Regions from separate parts of the Homo sapiens genome. Here region 2 is linked to region 1. Evidence: fine-mapped expression QTL. A gene starts in region 1. The other region holds a variant in brackets. All regions are shown on one strand. Distances are from middle to middle.

Region 1 (2,802 bases):
CCCTACTTTTCATTTCAACAAAACTTCCTTGTGCCAAGTTTAAAAGAAAAACATAAAACTGTCTTTTTGCATTGTGGGCAGATTGTGTATCCTCCAAAGGTTGTCCAGTGAAGGCCCAGAGGCAGAGAAGGGACCTAACTATATTCAGAGGCTGCTGGTTGCCCCACCTCAGCACTACTGCAGAACTCTAAAATCAGAGGCTGCTCTGTTTGTGTGAGTCGGTGCTTGAATTGGTGCTTCAGGCCATGGGGCTGTGTGTGTGCAGGCGCATATGGGTTGTATGCTGTGGCAGGGTACCGCTTTTCGGGACTCAGAGGTGGTGTTGCTTGAGCTAAGCCTGGAAAGACAGGTCAGTTTTCTCCTTGCTTATGAAGGGTTCAAAGTCTGACTCCACCATTCATCTGCTGTTTGTTCTTGGAGTTTCCTCATGAGCAGAGCATATTTACATAATGCCTACCTCACACAGTCCTGGTGTTGGTTGAATGTAGTCATGTATGTGAGAGCTTCACAAAATGAAAGATTGCACTGAATATTATAATTATTGTGATTTCAAGTGCATTTGTTTTACTAGCAGGCAGCCTGTCTTTTCTTGACACCTTCTCAAGTGCAGCCAGACTGAATACTTGGCAGCTAGGTGGGTGACAACAGAGGATTGAGGATTTTTAAAAAGATAACACTGTCCTAGATCCAACACCACTGTGGGCAAATGCTGGGGGTCTGTGAAACAGTTGGTACCCTGCTGCTGTCTGATATTGGAAACTATGAGATCTATAAGGTGATCCTGGTGACCTTTGGCCCACTGTTTTTACGCAAGCAATGGATCTACAGCCCTGCTTTGATGATGGAGATAAGCAATTTTGCAACTACATTACAAGGATCAGAAGATTGAATGTTCAGGGTTAGTCTCTTGTGGACAGGTAAAGATGGAAGAAGGAGAAACCCAGGAAACATGGCAAGCCTGCTTCTGGGGGTTAGAAGCTGAGAAGTTGAGTGTAGGGGGAGGGGCAGTGTACTAATAGCTGTCACACAACCTTCTCTGGAAGTGCTTTCCTGGCTGTATGAAATCGATGGAATAACGTGCTTAGCATCCGTTCATGAAACCAAATGATGTGATACGATAAATAGGATGTGATATGATAAATGATAAATAGTACAGTGGAAAAGCATCCTACTGGAAGACCATATCTTACTCTGTGACATCTTCCAAGGCAGTTCTTGGAGTTGGCCCAGGGAGATCAGAGATGCTATCTTATGGATCCAGACTATTATGTGTGAATAGGGAAACCTCAGTCCTGCCATGAACAAGAGTAAGCACCACAGACAGCAGAAAAGGGCAACTTTTGGACAGAAGGCCATGTTTCTCAAACTTTGTCTTCCAGAACAAATCTCTAATCCATTCAGGTGGGTTAATATCTAACCCAATCATGCCCAGCGAAAAGGTGAATGACCCTCCTCGTTTGTTCAAGAGCAGTGTCCTTGGTTTTCATGTCCCTGCCAGGACTGGGACACTATATATTAGGAACACTATATAATCAGAACCTGGAGAGGCCTCCAGGTTCACACAACTGGAACCCATCTCCAGGAACAAACAGCTGGAACCCATCTCCCGTTGAAGGGAAACTGCCAGATTTTTGTAAGATTCTTCCTCCTGGGTAAACTATTGTTCAATTTGTTTTATATATTATTTCTAGCCATCCATCCATTTTAATGAAACCATTTTCCTCCCTTTAAAGCCTCCAGGCTCAAGCTCATGAATTAAAAAGAAAATGGATCAGATTCTAAAGTTTAAAATGAAAACAGGTTTCTTTTGGGATGGCCTATGTGTGGATAAAGAGAAATTAGTGAGACTGGGAGGAAGTGGAAGTTTAGGAGGGATTTCTAAATTGTGATAAAATCCCCAAAGGCCTGGGGGAGCCATTTGCTGAAGGCCATCGGGAGTCCTCCCCCGTCGTCCACCCCTGTTACAGGCATTACACGTGGCTTAACAAGGAAAGAAACAGTATGTTTTTAGCATTGTTTCCTTCTAACCTTCCCTGCTAATTTCTCTTCTTAGAAAAGTTTTGGATGCTCTTTCAAACAAAGTGGAACACATCCCAAGATCAAAAGAAGGCTCACTGGCAGGTTGAAGGGAAGAAGGAAGGAAAAGCAATAAAGGGATGAATATGCCTTGGGTGTTAGGCTCTTACTTTGGGGGATTTTGCCCTAGGATGTATAAAAGTGTGAAGCCACATTGATGAAAATGATAACTATAGTTACTCATCATAAACTGTCAAGTTAACTCCCTGGTGTGTAAAATTTGATGAATCTTTTGAATACTGAACATTGCCTGTGGGGAGAGGGAGAGAATAATTCTTGTGAATACTAACAGATTCATTTGATACAGAAGATAAAGTTACTCTAAAGAACAGTTGGGGCCAGGTGTGGTGGCTCACACCTGTAATCCCCGCACTTTGGGAAGCCGAGGTAGCCGGATCAACTGAGGTCAGGAGTTCGAGACCAGCCTGGCCGACATGGCGAAACCCCGTCTCTACCAAATACACAAAATTAGCCAAGCGTGGTGGTGGCCGCCTGTAATCCCAGCTACTTGGGAGGCTGAGGCAGGAGAATTGCCTGAACCTGGGAGGTGGAGGTTGCAGTGAGCCAAGATAGCACCACTGCGATCTAGCCTGGGCGATAGAACAAGACTCTGTCTCAAAAAAAAAAAAAAAACAGGCCGGGCGCGGTGGCTCACGCCTGTAATCCCAGCACTTTGGGAGGCCGAGGCGGGTGGATCATGAGGTCAGGAGATCGAGACCATCCTGG
Region 2 (2,802 bases), 22 kb after region 1:
GTTACTAATGAGATGCCCTTAAATGTGTCTTTCAGCACTTGCTATAATTTGTAAGTGCCTCAATATGCCAGATGATGCTTTCTAAGCCTGCTTGGGGGAAAACAAGGGACAGGAGATGGTCGTAGGAAGGGAAAACCGGCCTGGTCCATTGGTGTAACACATCTGGAAAGTGTGCAGGCTGCCTGGTGGTTTTTGTTAATCAGCCCCGGACCTATGGGGGTCCTAACGTGCACTGCCCTATCCATCCATCAGGTAGACATGGCCGAAGATTAGTTTCACATAACTATTGAGTTCCACTGGGGACCAGCCACCAAATTTTGGGTCTGTGTCCAATCAGTGGTAAACAGGTTTGTCTAATATAGCACTAAAGAATGTTCATATTGATGTAGAGGCATCCTATCCACATTTTTAGTAACATTCGGCCAATGATTCTAAGAGTGATTCCTTTGTTCCCAACATGAAGTGGCAATTTGGGTTAAGTGACTAATAGTGGAGATCATCCAGAGGTAATCGTCCCAAATTTGATAAAAACTCACCTACCGTGTAATGGTTATTAGTAGCCAAAATCTTGGGGGCCATCTAGGAAAACTCCTTTAAGAGAGGGATTGCATACTCAGAGGTCCTTTGGATAGTCCGGTTATAATGAAGAGTTTTCCAGGATCTGGATTCTGAAGCGTTATATTAATGCCAGGCCATTTTTAAAAAATATTACCTTAAGTTACCAAGGTCCTGATTTTCCCATGAACAGTTTTTCATATACGTTTGTAAATGTATCTAATCAGTCCCCTGCAGGGGTGATACTCACTAAAGTAGCCCAGAAGTGCTAGAGATGGGTAGCAATCCACATACCCAGCAAGCATCTTAGTGTAGACTATCTGCATAATGTTATGCCCACTGTAGAAATAGACTAGTTTTAGCAGATGTCAAAAAAGTTTACTCATTATGATAAAGAATAACAGAAATTTAATCCTATAGTACAAAAAGATTTTTCTTAAGCAGTAGCTTCAGTTCTCCAGTTGGCTCACAAGTCCAACCAGGTTGATTGTCTGCTGTGTCAGGTTGGGGAGGGGCGATTTTTACCGAAATGTGATGTATGCGTGGTTTGACTCCAGCCAGCTTAACAGATGAATGAGTAGTTAATAAAACATCATAATGACCTGTCCACTTTTTGGCTGGCTGTTGTTGGTCCAGTCCTTGTTTTTACCAAGATTTTAGCGGCACTTTATCCTTGGATGAAAAGGGTGAAGGGGCTTTTTTGTAAGACACATAAAACTGGAAAGAACAAAAAGAACAAACTTGTGCAGGGTTAGTGATTTATGTCTTAGTTGTTGTACATATTGTTTAATTCTTGATTAATTTATTAAGTCCAAGGGTGGGGTCC[C/G]TGGCCAAGAACTTCAGAAGGGTCTCCCACACACAATTTCAAAAAGGCTTAATTTAAGCCCACTTCAGGGTGCTACCCCAATCCATAGCAGGGCAATAGGTAAAACCCTTTACCATTTTAAATCTGTTTCCCGATAGAGTTTTGCCAGGGGTTTTTTTTGGTTTTTTTGTTTGTTTGTTTTGTTTTGTTTTTGTTTTTGTTTTTGTTTTTTAGCATGTGGATCATCTTTTCAGTCTTTCCAGTTGATTGTGGCCTCCAACAAGAGTGTCATTTCCATTTGATCTGTAATGCTTGGCTTATCCTTTGTGTGATCTCAGAAATTAAAGAAGGATTATTGTTGCTTGGTATGGAGTAAGGAAGTCCAAATCGAGGAATGATTTCTTTTAGCAGAGCCTTAGCTACTTCTGCAGCTTTCTCAGACTTGTTCGGATAGGCTTCAATCTCTTGCTCGGGTAAGCTTCAACCTTTCCAGAAAATGTGTCTACAAACACTAGTAGGTACTTATAAATCCCAGTGTTTTTGGCATCTGGGTGAAATCAACCTGCCAGTCCTCGAATGGTCATATTCCTTTGTATTGTATCCTCCTCTGGGAAGAGTTGCATGCAGTTCTTGAATCATTTGGGGTATATAGATAACATGCTTGTATAATCTTTTGAATGATCTTTTGAAGGTGTGGCCCTTTGAGATATGGCTACACCAGGTGAGCCAGTCCATCTCTGCCATAGTGTGTCCCCTCATGCAGGTCTTTCAGGACTGGGTATACCAGGGCCTCAGAGAGTAATATCCCATGAGTGTTAGCTTTCCATGAGGAACAAGGGTCTGTGTTGGTCAATGTCCACTCATGTGTGCATTCTTCATTTCATTCAGTGTAGTGGAGTTTAAATTCTGACAAGTTTAAATGGAGTATTAAGGTCCCAAGTAAATATGTTTCTTGAGTGGCCTGCTTTGCAGCTTTATCAGCCACTTGATTCCCTTTGGTTATTGGGGAGTCATCCTTTTGGTGGCCTTGGCAGTGCATAATAGCAACTTGAGTTGGCAGAACAACTGCCTCTGACAAAGCTAAAATTTCCAGCAGGTGTTTAATGTCTTTATTTCTTGAGGTTAAGAATCCCCTTTCTTTCTGAATGACCCCACGGGCATACACTACCAAGAAGGCATACTTGGAGTAGGTGTAAATGTTTACCCATTTCTCTTGAGACTGTTTTAAGGCCCTGATGAGAGCAATCCATTCAGCTTTTTGTGCTGAAGTACCAGCAGCGGGGACATAGGCTTCTACTACTTTGTCTAGGGTCACTGGAGCATACCTGGCCTGGCGTTGTCCTCCTTCTGTGAAACTGCTTCAGTCAGTGTATAGCTCCCAGTCCGGAGTGGCCATCAGATGATCTGACAGATCTGGTCTGCTGGAATAGACTGCATCAAGA

Evidence for each region. PIP is the estimated chance that this variant, and not a neighbour inherited with it, causes the effect.
Region 2: its variant is fine-mapped to the expression of ANG in whole blood (INTERVAL, PIP above 0.99).

Annotation. Positions count from the first base shown.
Region 1 is chr14:20,687,223-20,690,024 of GRCh38, forward strand. ANG (angiogenin) reads left to right here and starts at 1,542. Exons shown (of 2, transcript NM_001097577.3): 1 at 1,542-1,652. The region is part of intron 1 of RNASE4 (ribonuclease A family member 4); the gene reads left to right.
Region 2 is chr14:20,708,847-20,711,648 of GRCh38, forward strand. It overlaps LOC124903282 (a long non-coding RNA gene), which reads right to left. Exons shown (of 2, transcript XR_007064061.1): 2 at 947-2,802. Among named protein-coding and RNA genes, the nearest start is that of EGILA, 3.3 kb to the left of the region's middle. The variant C/G (reference allele first, on the strand shown) is at 1,382.